Linked DNA regions of Homo sapiens. The protein of the gene in region 1 purifies or fractionates together with the protein of each later gene. This does not show direct contact. Each region holds a gene or a part of one and is shown in the gene's direction. Other genes may lie near its edges.

Evidence for each region. Proteins that work in one complex are often made in the same cells at the same time.
Region 2: the proteins of UTP14A (region 1) and USP36 purify together in Homo sapiens (affinity purification with mass spectrometry; 2 studies listed by BioGRID). This does not show direct contact.

Annotation. Positions count from the first base shown.
Region 1 is NC_000023.11:129,909,151-129,916,170, forward strand, and holds part of UTP14A (U3 small nucleolar RNA-associated protein 14 homolog A), read left to right. Parts: intron 1-1,857; coding exon 1,858-2,000; intron 2,001-2,615; coding exon 2,616-2,771; intron 2,772-3,428; exon of another isoform or gene 3,429-3,541; coding exon of another isoform or gene 3,542-3,560; intron 3,561-4,159; coding exon of another isoform or gene 4,160-4,245; intron 4,246-7,020. UniProt on the Homo sapiens protein: May be required for ribosome biogenesis.
Region 2 is NC_000017.11:78,837,800-78,845,784, reverse strand, and holds the start of USP36 (ubiquitin carboxyl-terminal hydrolase 36), read left to right. Parts: upstream 1-4,970; 5' UTR 4,971-5,049; exon of another isoform or gene 5,050-5,506; intron 5,507-5,774; exon of another isoform or gene 5,775-5,946; intron 5,947-7,034; 5' UTR 7,035-7,198; intron 7,199-7,985. UniProt on the Homo sapiens protein: Deubiquitinase essential for the regulation of nucleolar structure and function. Required for cell and organism viability.

The DNA of each region.
Region 1 (7,020 bases):
CAGTATTTCTCAACCTTTGCTTTTTTATTGCTCCCCTGAGAGGAGCCTTTCAAGCCTTTTTTTTTTTTTTTTTTTTTGAGACAGAGTCTCACTCTATCGCCCAGGCTGGAGTGCAGTGGTGCGATCTTGGCTCACTGCAAACTCCGCCTCCCAGGTTCACGCCATTCTCCTTCCTCAGCCTCCCGAGTATCTGGGACTACAGGTGCCCGCCACCGCGCCTGGCTAGTTTTTTGTATTTTTAGTAGAGACGGGGTTTCACCGTGTTAGCCAGGATGGTCTGGATCTCCTGACCTCGTGATCCACCCGCCGCAGCCTCTCAAAGTGCTGGGATTACAGGCGTGAGCCACCGTGCGCGGCCTCAAGACATTTTTTTCCTCATTGTATCCCTCCCCCTGTGCCCCTTCCCCAGGAAATCAAGTCCTAAGGAATAAGAGTTTGTTGGACAGAGTTGAGCCTTGGAGGGACACAAAACATTGTAATATCTAAGATTTTTTTCATACTCTCCCAGAAAGAACCAATTTTCACCCTGGGGTGGCGGGGTGGTAAAATTGCCCCTGTTCAGAATACATGCTCTAATAAGCGGCAGCCATGGGATTTTATCCTAATACTGAGTCTAGATGCCAAATCTTTTTCACCCTGTTCACAACTTAGGCAGCTAGAATGGGTCTTGCATTTGTAGTAATCACTGGTGTAGCCTCCTAGGGCAAATAACAATGTATTCCAAGCGTACTTATTCAGTGGATATTTATTGTGTTTCTACTAGGTAGCAGTATCAGGAACTGTTGTAGATACCAAGGTTAAAGTAGCGAATAAGATGTGAGCTCATGGGGTTTACATTCTAATGAAGGGAGACAATAAGAGAGGATGATGCAGTAAAGCAACTAAGTGGCTACTTTAGATCGGTTGGTCATGAAAGGCCCCTGAAGAGGCAAAATTGAAGCCGAGATCTGAATGACAAGTCAAGTCAACCATGCAAAGATTGGGGAAAGCATTTCAGGCCAAGGAACAGCTAGCACAAAGGCTCTAAGGTAGAAACATGCACAACATGTTGAAGAATAGGAAAGAGGCCCCTGTGACAAAAGCATTCTAGAGGGTGGGGGTTGATATGAGGTTAGAGAGGCAGATGGGGATTAGATCTCATAGGACCATGTCCTTTAGGTAGATGAGATTCAAAGTATAATGGGGAGTCACTGGAGGATTTTCAGCAGGGTCATGACATGCTGTGGTTTATATTTTCGAAAGATAATTTTGGGCTGGATACAGTGGTTTACACCTGTAATCTCCAGCACTTTGGGAGGCCGAGGTGGGCGGACTGCTTCAGCCCAGCCATTTGAGGCTGGCCTGGGCAACATGGCAAAACCCCATCTCTACAAAAAAAAAATTAAAAAAATTAACCACGCGTGGTGGCACGCGCCTATAGTGCCAGCTACTTGGGAGGATTGCCTGAGCCTGGGAGGCAGAGATGGCACCACTGCTCTCCAGCCTAAGTGACAGAGTGAGACCCTGTCTCAAAACAAACAACAACAACAGCAAAAAGATCACTTTGGCTGTTTTTATTTTTGGCTGTTATGTGAAGAATGAATTGCAATGGGGCAAGAGTAGAAGCACCAGGAGAAAAGCAAATGAGTTTTGAATAAATATTTTCCCCTATCTTCTACCCCCTAACACGTTTGGGGATGAATGTAGAAGAGTGATAGTGTTGGCATGGCTAGAAATAGGCAATTGAAGTAAGAGAATTATTCTTGCTTCTCTGCACATTTGCCATCTACTGGCATTTTCTACTGAGGCTTCTCCCTACATTATATTGAGATCTTGTCTCACTTCTTGGTCTGACCAGAAAGTTTGACCTTTCCACAGGATCAGGAGAAAAGCTGGTCCTTGCAGATCTGCTTGAGCCTGTTAAAACTTCATCTTCTTTGGCCACTGTGAAAAAGCAACTGAGTAGAGTCAAATCAAAGAAGACAGTGGAGTTACCTCTGAACAAAGAAGAGATTGAACGGGTAAGCTACAGAGAAGGTGGTCTATTAAGGGAAAGAAATTGAATTGACAAGGGAAAATAGGGTAATAGAAAGAAGGGAAAGACCTGAAAAATGGGAGAAGGGGGAGTTGTGATTTCCCCACTATGGATAAGATTAAAAATAATCTAGGAGTGCCAGGCGCGGTGGCTCACGTCTGTAATCCCAGCACTTTGGGAGGCTGAGGTAGGCGGATCACCTGAGGTCAGGAGTTCGAGACCAGCCTGTCCAACATGGTGAAACCCCGTCTCTACTAAAAATACAAAATTAGCCGGGTGTGGTGTAATCCCAGCTACTTGGGAGGCTGAGGCAGGAGAATCCCTTGAACCAGGACGTGGAGGTTGCAGTGAGCTGAGATTGCACCATTGCTCTCCAGCCTGGGCAACACGAGTGAAACTCCATCTAAATAATAATAATAATCTAGGAGAAATTGCAGTCCTGAGAAGCAAGAGGACTAGCATCCTGATTCTTTCATCCTGATTCTAGCATCCTGATTCTTTCTTGGGCTAAGAAATGTTGCTTCCTAATTTCTTGTTAGTCCTTTGGGTTTGATGCTTTAATCTTGTGGCTCTTTCCGTTTACATGCCTTGCCTGCTTCAGATCCACAGAGAAGTAGCATTCAATAAAACCGCACAAGTCCTCTCCAAATGGGACCCTGTCGTCCTGAAGAACCGGCAGGCAGAGCAGCTGGTTTTTCCCCTGGAGAAAGAGGAGCCAGCCATTGCTCCCATTGAACATGTGCTCAGTGGCTGGAAGGTGAGTACAACAAAATGAAACTGAAAGGTGAGATTTTATAAGTTGGAGATTTCAGAGCCTGCAATTGATTTGATTGGACATGTTAAGCTAAACCCCAGCATAAGTCATTTTAGCTTAGTGCTCAGAAAGAAGGGGTTGCCCATCGTCATTGTCAGTCATGTGATAGCCAGTCACAATAGCTCTGTGATCACTTTTTTTTTTTTTTTCTTGAGACAGGGTCTTGCTCTGTCGCCCAGGCTGGAGTGCAGTGGCACGATCTCAGCTCACTGCAACCTCTGCCTCCTGGGTTCAAGCAATTCTCCTGCCTCAGCCTCCCAAGTAGCTGGGATTACTGGCGTGCACCAACACGCCCAGCTAATTTTTTTTTTTTTGGATTTTTAGTAGAGATGGGGTTTCACCATGTTGGCCAGGCTGATCTCAAACTCCTGACCTCAAATGATCCGCCCACCTCAGTCTCCCAAAAGTTTTGTGATTACGGGCATGAGCCAATGCGCCCGGTCTCTGTGTCACTTTTCATCTGCTTGTAGTATACAGTACTTGCTATTTCCATGTTTTTGTGTTAAACCATGTGATTGCCCGTATAGCAGGAACATAATAATGTTTTCTTTCTTTTACCCCAGTTTTTAAAAAGCATTTAAAGCCACATTCTGATCCTAGGGAAATCAGGAACTCGATAACATTAATGATGCCTTAGTGAGGATATGTGAACAACAGAAGCCAAACTTTGCTTGTACAGGAATACCGCATTAAAATATAATGTGTTGCTGGCAATGACTAGAACTTCAGCAGGTAACTTACTATGACTCTGAGCTGCAGGGCAGGGGTTGATGTTTTAGAGCTGGGTTTCCCAAACACTGACCCCTAACAAAGTTTGTGTCTGAAGCAAAAGGATAATTCTAAGTATGTTTGTTTGGTGGGTGTAATGTTGCCAGTTCTTTTTTATTATGAGGTTATTCTATTTTAATGGTGTTGAAATATCTTTTCTTCTATGAAATGATGGTGGTAGTAAATGATGGGATTGGGGGTGAAATGGTAGTTATGCTCTTGGCAAAATTAGAAGTTGGAAATCCTATGTTGGTCCCTGAAGTCCGGTTTTTAGTCCGAATAACTGCTTTAGAACAGCTAGCCTACTTTTCCAATACACCATTGGTATGGAGTCTATAATGGGCTGATTAGTCTTAAATAGATGCCCTCTTTGTGCTTCTCCTCTTTACTTTCCAAAAACCCAAGAATGGTAGTTTCTTAGGCGTTGGGAAGTTGAGCTAATTAAAGCTAATCAAAGTAAACATTGCTTGCCACAATAGCTAGAAATTGAGCGAGTAGTTGCTTATTATGGGGATAAGCTGTTTCTGATGTTTTTGCTGAAGTCACTACCATTCTCTTTCTAGGAGGCTTCCTTTTCTACATGAAAAAGAGATCAGGTTTAAAGTGTGGCTGCAGGATGAAGGGAGACTTTAGAAAAAAAAAATCAGAGGTAATACAATTTGTAGGATTCAAAAATAAAAAAGCATAGAAGATATGTAGTGAAAAGTTTGATTCCACCCGTGCCCCATCTGATCATTTTTACCCCCATACTCACCCAGAAGTAACCACTTGCATAAGTTTGCTGTTGTTGTTGTCTTAGAGTTTTATTTCTATATTCATGTTTACCTCCTTTTTAAATAAAAAGAAGGGTAGCATGCTACTACACACTGTCCTCCACCTTGCTTTTTCCAAATGACAGTGTAATCTTGGAGATAGCAGGAAAATGCCAAGTTTGTTATTAAAAACGAGATGGGGCCGGGTGTGGTGGCTCACGCCTGTAATCCCAGCACTTTGGGAGGCCGAGGCAGGTGGATCACCTGAGGTCAGGAGTTTGAGACCATCCTGGCCAACATGGCGAAACCCCATCTCTACTAAAAATACAAAAATTAGCGGGGCATGGTGGTGTGTGCCTGTAATCCCAGCTACTAGGGGGGCTGAGGCAGGAGGATCACTTGAACCTGGGAGGCGGAGGTTGCAGTGAGCCGAGATTGTGCCACTGCACTCCAGCCTGTGCAATAGAATGAGACTCTGTCTCAAAATATATATATAAATAAATAAAAAATAAAAACTAGATGGTAGTGGAGGAGGTTACACTAAGAATAGAACAACCTCTTCAAGATAGAGTGAGGCTCAGATGTCATACATTGAATATACCATGCCGTTCATTCATTCTAAGACTGACTTTTGAGAAATTATGCTAGTAGGGCACAGAGAAATAAGGAAGTGCTTAGTTCAGAGGGTGCTTTGTGGCTAGCAACTCCTAGGTCTCTCCTTACAACTTAGATTGCAAAGTACCAACAACTAGTATATGCTGTATTAGGATTTCTAGAAACTGAATATCAAGTCTCAGACCAGGCACGGTGGCTCACGCCTATAATCCAAGCACTTTGGGAGGCTGAGGCAGGTGGATCACCTGAGGTCAGGAGTTCAAGACCAGCCTGGCCAACATGGTGAAACCTCGTCTTTACTAAAAATATGTAAATTAGCCGGGCATGGTAGCACATGCCTGTAGTCTCAGCTGCTGAGGAGGCTGAGGCAGGGGAATTTCTTGAATCCAGGAGGCAGAAGGTACAGTGAGCCGAGATCACGCCACTGCACTCCAGCCTGAGGAAAAAAAAAAACCCTCTACTCTTTCCCCGCCCTCCCCCAAAAAAAAGAAAAGAAAATCGAAAGTCTGTACTATAGTTTTGGTCCAGCTCCCTAAAATTTTGTTTAGCTGCAAATAATTAAGTGGGATAATGCATGAGAAGGCATTTGTAAACTGCAAAGTGCTAGAAATGCTGTGAGGTAACTTCTTTCACCCCTCTCCTCACTATTCTCTGTCTACAGTGGTATTTCCCAAGGCATTCTCCTTGAAACCTTAGTCTCTCATTATGCCTTCACAAGAGGAGGAGAGGAGGCATTGCTAGAAAATGCTGCATGCCCCTACTGGAGATCGGAGAGTCACAACATGCTTTAGCATTTTAAAGTCTATGAAACAGGCCAGACGGATGTGGTGGCTCACGCCTGTAATCCCAGCACTTTGGAAGGCTAAGGCGGGTGGATCACCTGAGGTTAGGAGTTTGAGACCAGCCTGACCAACGTGGCAAAACATCGTCTCTACTAAAAAATATTAAAAAATTAGCTGGACGTGGTGGCTTATGCCTGTAATCCCAGCTACTCAAGAGGCTGAGGCACCAGAATCGCTTGAACCCAGGAGGCGGAGGTTGCAGTAAGCCAAGGTTGGGCCACTGTACTCCAACCTGGGCAACAGAGTGAGACTCTGTCTCAAAAATAAAAAATAAAAATAAAGGCTATGGGCCGGGCGTGGTGGCTCACGCCTGTAATCCCAGCACTTTGGGAGGCTGAGGTGGGTGGATCACAAGGTCAGGAGATCGAGACCATCCTGGCTAACACGGTGAAACCCCGTCTCTACTAAAAATATAAAAAATTAGCTGGGCACGGTGGCGGGCGCCTATAGTCCCAGCTACTTGGGAGGCTGAGGCAGGAGAATGGCATGAACCTGGGAGGCGGAGCTTGCAGTGAACCAAGATCGTGCCACTGCACTCCAGCCTGGGCGACAGAGCGAGACTCTGTCTCAAAAAAAAAAAAAAAAAAAGGCTATGAAACAATGGTGAAGACACCTGTTGGATCTAATTTAACTTAGGGTGTACAAACTGATTTTATTAAAATTTCAAAAAAATTGAATTTTAAGCTTTTAACAGGGGAGGCAAATCTTGTTATCTGATGAGAAATGTGTTTGGGGAAGAGCTGGTCTGTCTCCACTGCTGCCTCCTCTCTCTCACCTTCTTCCCCTACTGCCCTACTGAAACTTCTCTCAAAAGGCATTAGTGAGGGGCCTCCGAATTGCCAAATCCCAAGCCCTCTTAGTCTTTAGCATATTTGACACCATTGGCACATTTCATTCTAAAAATCTCTCCCCTCTAGCTTCTGTGATATACTCTGGGTATTTTCTCTCTCTGGCTTTCCTTAGTCCTTTTTATTCTTGCTCTGTAAATTCCATGACTTTTTTTTTTTTTTTTTTTTGAGACGGAGTCTTGCTCTGTCGCCCAGGCTGGAGTGCAGTGGTGCAATCTCGGCTCACTGCAAGCTCCACCTCCCGGGTTCACGCCATTCTCCTGCCTCAGCCTCCCAAGTAGCTGGGACTACAGGTGCCCGCCACCACGCCCAGCTAATTTTTTGTATTTTTTAGTAGAGACGGGGTTTCACCGTGTTAGCCAGGATG
Region 2 (7,985 bases), on another chromosome or scaffold:
TTTTTTTTTTTTGAGACAGAGTCTCGCTCTGTCACCAAGGCTGGAGTGCGGTGGCGCGATCTCGGCTCACTGCAACCTCCACCTCCCGGGTTCAAGCAATTCTCCTGCCTCAGCCTCCTGAGTAGATGGGACTACAGGCAAATGCCACCATGCCCAGCTAATTTTTGTATTCTAGTTGAGACAGGGTTTCACCATGTTAGTCAGGCTGGTCTTGAACTTCTGACCTCAAGGTGATCCGCCCGACTCGACCTCCCAAAGTGCTGGGATTAGAGGCATGAGCTACTGCACCCAGCCCATCTACACCTTTGCAGGGGATTCTGGAGAATTCCGTGTAGCAGGATGACCTATGGAGACAAACTTGCCTCTCACCCGAGGCACCACTCACCTGTCTGTAGCCTGCGTGCTTCATCTATAGTTGGGACCTCTTGCCTGTGGGGCACCTGGTCCACCCTTCCAGCCTCAGCCATCCCAATGGCCTCCTTTTCTTTCCTTTTTTTTTTTTTTTTTTTTTTTGAGATGGAGTCTCGCTCTGTCTCGCAGGCTGGAGTGCAGTGGCGCGATCTCAGCTCATTGCAACCTCCACGTGCCAGGTTCAGTGATTCTCCTCTTTATTTTCTTGAAGGTGCCAAGCTCGCTCCTGTCTCGGGCATTTTGTTCGTGCTGTTCTCTCATTCCAGAACCTCCTTCCCTTGCTCCTCTTACAGCCGGTCTCTCATCTTCCCACTTTCAACGGAGGTAGCACATCCTCGCAAGAGTTTCCTCCGATGCCCCAGGCCAAGGTATTCTCCATCACCTCATCCTGCTCTTGGCCTGGTCACCGTTGGTCATAAAAATTATGCAAAAGTGTTCATTTGTTCATGACCTGCGTGTTCTTAAGTCCTTTGTGGGGAGAGTCCAGGGTTGATTCACTCACCACCATGTGGAACAGAGTAAATAAGAAATATTCGCTGGATGAATCAATTTGTTTGGTGCCACAGGGCCACAGGAAGGGGTGCCAGCCCCAAGAGAACAGTGGAGGCTTTGTGCGGCAGAGGCCTGGATCCTTCTTCCCCAGGAGTTGGAGACTGGAGGCCTTTAGCAAGTGCTTCCTAGGGAAACTTCAGGTCCCTCTGGGCAGAAAGGAGCCCAGAAGGGTGGATATTTGGGGGAGATGGCTGGCACCAGAGATGGCTGGCACCAAGGGGGCTGGGACTGCAGGAGGCTGTGTGGGGCGGGGACTTGGAGGGAAGTGACAGAGCAAGGGAAAGGGCTGGCGAGTGTGAGCGTGAGAGTCGGTGGATTTTGAAAGTGTGTGAGTGTGGTGGGGTGTGTGAGTGTGTGTGAGGATGTGAGTAAGAGAGAATGTATGTGTGTGTGTGTTGGGGGAATCCCTGGGACCGAACTTATTGTAGAAAGGGTGGCATCCTGCCCAGCTGCATTTAGGGGAAGGACCTCTGCCAGCCTAGGGCACATCTGGCTGAGGTGACCCTTGAGCTTGAGAGCAGTACCAGGGGAGCGATGCAGGGAATCCGCAGACTAGAAGACCAGGGTGCACCTCCCCAAACAGCCGGCTGCCTGGAGTGGCTCTTCGGAGCCTGGGTAAACCCCTGGAGATCTGTCCTATTCAAAGGAGGCAGAGAGCCCCCAAAATGATTGAGGTGGGGAATTCCAACCACCGATGGGGTAGAGGTATTAAACTAATTTAGTTTACCAAAATGAAACAAGAGAAAAGGCCGGGAGGTGGGGTGCGGTGGCTCACGCCTGTAATCCTTGCACTCTGGGAGGCTGAGGGGGGCAGATCACCTGAGGCCAAGAGTTCAAGACCAAACATGGCGAAACCCCATCTCTACTAAAAATACAAAAATCAGCTGGGTGTGGTGGCGTGCACCTGTGATCCCAGCTACTCTGGAGGCCGAGACACGATAATCGCTTGAACCCGGGAGGCGGAGCTTGCAGTGAGCTGAGATTGCACCACTGCACTCCAGCCTGGGCGACAGAGTGAGACTCCACCTCAGAAAAATAAAAAACAAGAGAAAACTACAAAATACGTATCCTGACTTGTGCCAAAGCATCTCGGAGCAGCTGCTGCTCTTGCTAGTGCCCTCTGTGGTCCCAACTCCTGGCCGCCACCTGCCCGGGCCTGGGCTGCCGCCTTGCACAGCCATTCTCCTGGCACGGTCAGATGTCTGAGAGTCAACACCATTTAGGAAGGATGACTTTCTCCACCCCTTCTGAGACTAGAAACAAAATGGAAGGGTCATAAGAATGGTGCCAAGCAGCCAAAAGAGCCACTTCCTTTGGGTACCAACAGGTGGCGTGGCGTCATGGCTCCTGTCTTCCCCAAGTGCCTGTGCCCAGCAGCTGCCTCTGCCTGTGCATCTTCTAGGGCGATGCTAATGGCAGATTTCCTGAGAGCCCTGTCCCATCTGCATGGATGGGAAGGACGACATACATTGCTGTTCTTCCTAAGGAAAGTGGCATCCCTCCCAAACCTGGGAACTCGGGTCTCCATGGACCGCACAGACACCTGAGAAAAGGTTTTGCATCAGAGGCTGATGGCAGAGGCTCTACCAGTCCAGCAAGTCACCTGACTGATGTGAAGGGTTCCCCTAGAGCAGGAGGGACATCTGGGCTGAAAACCCTCATGTGAAAAGGCCTGGGCCCCCCAGGCACTCGGCACCTATGAAATGCAACCCCAGCGGGTGGAAAAGCAAGTCCACGATTGCACTCCCCTGCCAGGCTAGGGAGAAATTCTGCTATTGCAGTTCAGGGGCAACACACCCACCCCCGCAGACCTGAGGGTGGCTGCAACTGTCAGCCACACCCAAAGAATGCAGGGCAGGCTCACTGTGGATAAATGTTTATGAAAGAACCACATGGAAATTGAAATATTTGAGATGAGACTGAATGATCTCTAAATCCTAAAAGAGAAAACTAGAGAAACATTAAAGATGAAAGAATAAAATATTCTGTTATAGAAAGCTGTAACCAAAACGGATCACATTAGAACTTACCTCAAGAAAAAGGTGCATTAACAGAATAGTTGTATTGTCACCCAAAAATTACCTGGTCCGCTCCCTGCCTGGGAGGTCAAGGTAAGATGGACTCAATTCCTCTCCTGGTTTCACAGCCTGTAGAAGATGGCTGAAGATTTGGGCTAATTTCGTGAGAGACCTACGTTGCATTTCTTTCTTTTTTTTTTTTTTAGACCAAGTATTGCTCTGTTGTCCAGGCTGCTGGAGTGCAATGGCACGATCTCAGCTCATTGCAACCTCCACCTCCCAGGTACAAGCGATTCTCCTGTCTCAGCCTCCCTAGTAGCTCGGATTACAGGCGTGCGCCACCATACCCAGCTAATTTTTGTATTTTTAGTAGAGACAGGTTTTCACCATGTTGGCCAGGCTGGTCTGGAATTCCTGACCTCAAGCGATCTGCCTGCCTCGGCCTCCCAAAGTGCTAGGATTACAGGCGTGAGCCACTGTGCCCTGCCTTTTTTTCTTTTCTTTTCTTTTCTTTTGAGACGGAGTCTCGCTCTGTCGCCCAGGCTGGAGTGCAGTGGCGACATCTCAGCTCGCTGCAACCTCCGCCTCCTAGGTTCAAGGGATTCTCGTGCCTCAGCCTCCTGAGTAGCTGGGATTACAGGCGCCCACCACCACACCCAGCTAATTTTTGTATGTTTAGTAGAGACGGGGTTTCACCATGTTGGCCATGCTGGTCTCGAACTCCTGACCTCAGGTGATCCGCCCACCTTGGCCTCCAAGTGTTGGGATTACAAGGGTGAGCCACCGCGCCCAGCCCAAGGATTCTTACAGATAGGGCATAGTCTCAGCATCAGACTAATATGGTTATCTTGTTTGCTTTTTTCAAAAAACACCAGCGCCCAGGTAATAAATACAAGGTGAATTTTGTTCCAAGTACATCTAGCCTCTCTCCCCATCTCCAGTCCCTGCTTTAGGATCCGTGGGGAGGGCATGGAAATTCGTTTTGGGTTGTTTACCTGTGACTTCACCCTACTCATCATTCCTACTTACATCAAAAAAGACACAGCAGATACGACTGTGTTTGCAAAGTTCTGCCTTTTGGATAAAGTAGTTTATGCCCATCCTGTGCTTCTCTGAGTTTCTGAGGTCAGGCCAGGAACCAACACTCTCAACCTGCCCAAGGGAATGGGGAGGAAGCCAGCGAAGTTGCCTCAGATCAAGAGGATTTTTAAAAATACTGCAAAAGAAATACGTGCTCACAAATACTCAGCTAAAACCTTCGCAGAGCTGTCAGAGGACAAAGCTTTTGGAGGGAGTGGGTGGAGCTAGAGATTGCACAGCCGCCACCAGCCTACAAAGGTCAAATCTCACACTCTCAGATCCCTAATTCCGAAGAGCCATTTCCTCGGCAGCCCCAGGCTTTGGCCGATCGCTCCCAGATCCCTCCCTCCCCAAACTGCAGGTGCTCCGCGTGTGGGAGTCACGGATGGCCCCAGAGCCCGGGACGTTAAGGCCGAGCGCCCGCGCCTCCGCTTCTCCACAGCCACCTGACGGCCAGGGGCAGGTGGGGGAGCCCAGCCTTCTCCCTGCCCGGGAGACAGCGCGGGAGGGCTGTTGCAGGGGTGGGCAAAGTCCCTCGAGTCCCCGTTCTGGGGCGGGGGCGCGCGCCACTGTCACACTTCAGGCGTCCGCCACGCCGCCAGGTGTGCTCGGCCGACCCGGAAGTAGCGGCACCTCTAGTGCGCTGCGGAGACGTCACCCTGCCGCGGCACAGGGGCGGGAGCGCCTGTGGCTCTGCGCACTTGCGTCATCACGTAGGCTGGCGGGGTCCCGTGATGGGGAGGTGACGTAGGCGACACGGAAGCGGCGGTGGGCGGGGACAGGGAGTTAGCGGAATCTAGCCCCGCCTCTTAAAGCCTCCCAACCCTTTCGGAGTTAGCGCAGCGCGAACGCTGGGTGCGGCGCCTTTAAGCGTCGCGGTGACACGTGTGTGAGGCGCCGGAGGCCCGGATGGTGCGCGTGCTGGGCCGCGGGCCGAAGGAGTCGCCAGGGCTGCGTAGGCTTGTGGCGCGCCCGCGGAGAGGCCGGGGTAGGCTGGGGTCGGGTCGGGGCGGTGCGCAGGCCTGGGGACGAGACCGGGGCGGGGGGTTCCGCGAGGCCTGGGGCGCGGGAAGGGCTGGCGGGCGCAGCCGGGACGCTCAGGGAGAACGTGGGCGCGGGTCCGCGCAGGGCTTCGGCCGTCCCCGAGGAGGACCCGGGATGCTCCGCCCGCTCGCGAGCTCGCTTCTCCAGAGCCCGGGTATTCCCGAGGAGGGTCCGGGGCCGGGCTGTCCTCGCCGGTCTCCGCCGTCCCCCGGGCTCCGGGCCGGTGATGGGGGTCGCCGGGGCCCGCTGTCTGTGCAGGATTCAGGTCAACTTCGGAGAGGTTGAAGTCGGAATCAGGGCGAGGGCGTCGCGTGCGGCCGCAGAGCTCAGCGGGGCGGGTGCGGCCCCGGGGCGGGCACCTTCCTCGTGGTTGCGGAGGAGGCCATGGAGCCCGGGGCGGGGTGCGGTTCCGATGCTGCTGCTTCTGGCGGGTGGCGTGGGGGTCCTGGGCCTGGGGCTGGAGTGGCGGCCGCCAAACCCAGACACACGAGAGGGGAGACTCCGCGCGCCCCCGTTTACGTAACGCTCGCCACGGAGCCATGCTCGGGGAGAGGTGCTCGGGTCGCTGTGTCCGCGGCCGGGCTCGGGGCAGGCGCTGCGGAGTCGCCCGGGAGGCCCCTGGAGCGCGGCGCTGGGCCCCGGGAGGCCGCTGCTTCCGTGGGCTCCTCTCCCCAGCACGTGGTTGACCCTGCGAGCGTCCGTTGCAGTTCATCCTGGAAAAGTGACTTTAGAAGGAGGAGGGAGCGGGAATGAGCCTAAATGGTGCTGGCTGGGGTTCGCGCAGGTGGAAATGTGGATGAGGCCTGTGCTGTCCTTGGACAAGAGAGAGCATCCTTCCTGAGTTGGGTAGAGTGTGGATGGTGTGTGCGTCGGAGGGATTGCTAGTGATTACAGGAACACTTGTCTCGGGCTCCTACACGTCAGAGAGCGAGCGAGCGTTGTTTAGGTTATTGCTTAATGTTTTAGGTGGAATTGGTGAAGTAGAGATTGACCTGTCCCACTTGAAAAATTGTGTTCAAAATCTCTGCATCTACATTAAGGAGTGGGTTAAGTTCAAAGTTACTTATCTCGAGTGAAACTGGGTTACATCTCCCAAGGTTCGTTTATCCCCTCCCTAAGTGGTTCTCAAGCGTTGGTTGTGCATGACAGAGTTCTCACCTTCCAGGGTAGATGTGAGTCCTAACCGAAAGCAGTGATATTGTGGGGAGTTTTTAATACGACTGGATGTCTTCACTTTGTAGATGGCTTTTATTCTGAGATCATTTCCTTACACATTTTTCGGGAGTTGGTATGCTTTTATTTATGGATGAAGTCATAGGTCTGAGATTTGCTGTAGAATTACCTGGGGATGGGAAGTGACTCAGGATGGGTCAGATGTAGTTACTGAGGCTGAATAAGGGGGGCTCATGTGCTCCCTGTGCGGTTCTCCATCTGTGTGTTTGAATGTTTTCACTGTAAACTGTTTTTACGAACCTTAATTTTATGTAATCATAGTGATCGTAGATGGTAATGAAAGAGAAAATCCACACTTAGCAAAGCAAAATTTTGGCAACTCCTATTACTCCCTGAGGTTTGTTGTTGTTGTTATTGAAGTTTTACTGGTTCATTAAATCCAAAACTTGGGGATTTATTACCTCTTACTCTTTGGAAATAAGATTAGACTGGAGCTGACTGGCAGGTGTTGGGGAGGTTTTCCTTCTCTGGGCTTGTCTGGGGTCAAGGTTAAGGTGTTCATATCGTGTGCATTACAACAACTGGTGATGAGGTAGTACGGTCCACCCGCCTCATCCTGAGTGCACGCGTGGATGCTCCTTGGACGGCTTTTTCGTGGTAGAGGGTTCCCGGTGCGCGCCGCATCCCTGGGAAGTAGCTGAAGAGAAGGCACAGGAAGAGTCGCCTCCACTGATGGTCTCCCTGTCCCTCCCACAGGCTCTGACGCCCGCTCTGCGGCTTCGGTGTTTGAACAGGCCACAGTCCAGGAGCGCTTACATTCAGGAGCTCCGCGTAGCACCTGCCCAACCAAACTCAGCCCTCCGTTAAGATCCTGGTTCCATGCCGCAGTAGGACAGCAGGCCCAAGTCTGCACATCCCAGGTGAGTCTGCGAGGCTTCTGTGTATTTTTTGATTCCGTTGAATTGTCTGCATGTGACGCAGCAGTGATTGTTCAGTTGGTGAGAAGTCTTTGATAATTCTCATGAGAAAAGGCTCTTTTATTTTCTCAAATCAGACAACTTATAATGCTTTTTTTTAAATAAGCTTCTGAAATTTCTTTACAGAAGTTTTTTGTTTTTTGTTTTTTTTTTTTTTTGAGACCAAGTCTTGCTCTGTTGCCCAGGCTGGAGTGCAGTGGCGCGATCTCGGCTCACTCCAACCTCTGCCTCCCGTGTTCAAGCAATTCTCTGCCTCAGCCTCCTGCGTAGCTGGGATTACAGGCGCCTGCCACCATGCCTGGCTAGTTTTTTTGTATTTTTAGTAGAGAAACATCTTCGCCAGGCTGGTCTTGAATTCCTGACCTCCTGATCCACCCGTCTCGGCCTCCCAAGTGCTGGGATTACAGGCGTGAGCCACGATTTTTTTTGTTTTAAAGATGGGGTCTCACGATGTTGCCCAGGCTGGACTGCACTGGCTATTCACAGGCGTAATCATAGCTCACTGCAGCCTCAGGCTCCTGCCCTCAAGTTATCCTCCCACCTCAGCCTCCCAAGCATCTGGGACGACAGGCCCAGGCCACTGCACCTGGCTTTTCTTTACAGAAGTTTTTGTAGAAAAAGATACTTGATCCATGTATAGAATTAGATGATCCACAGTGATAAATTTGAATGGCTTAATATGAGGTGCTGGAGGAAGTCCTTACTTTCACTAGAGCAGAATTTTGGGGCA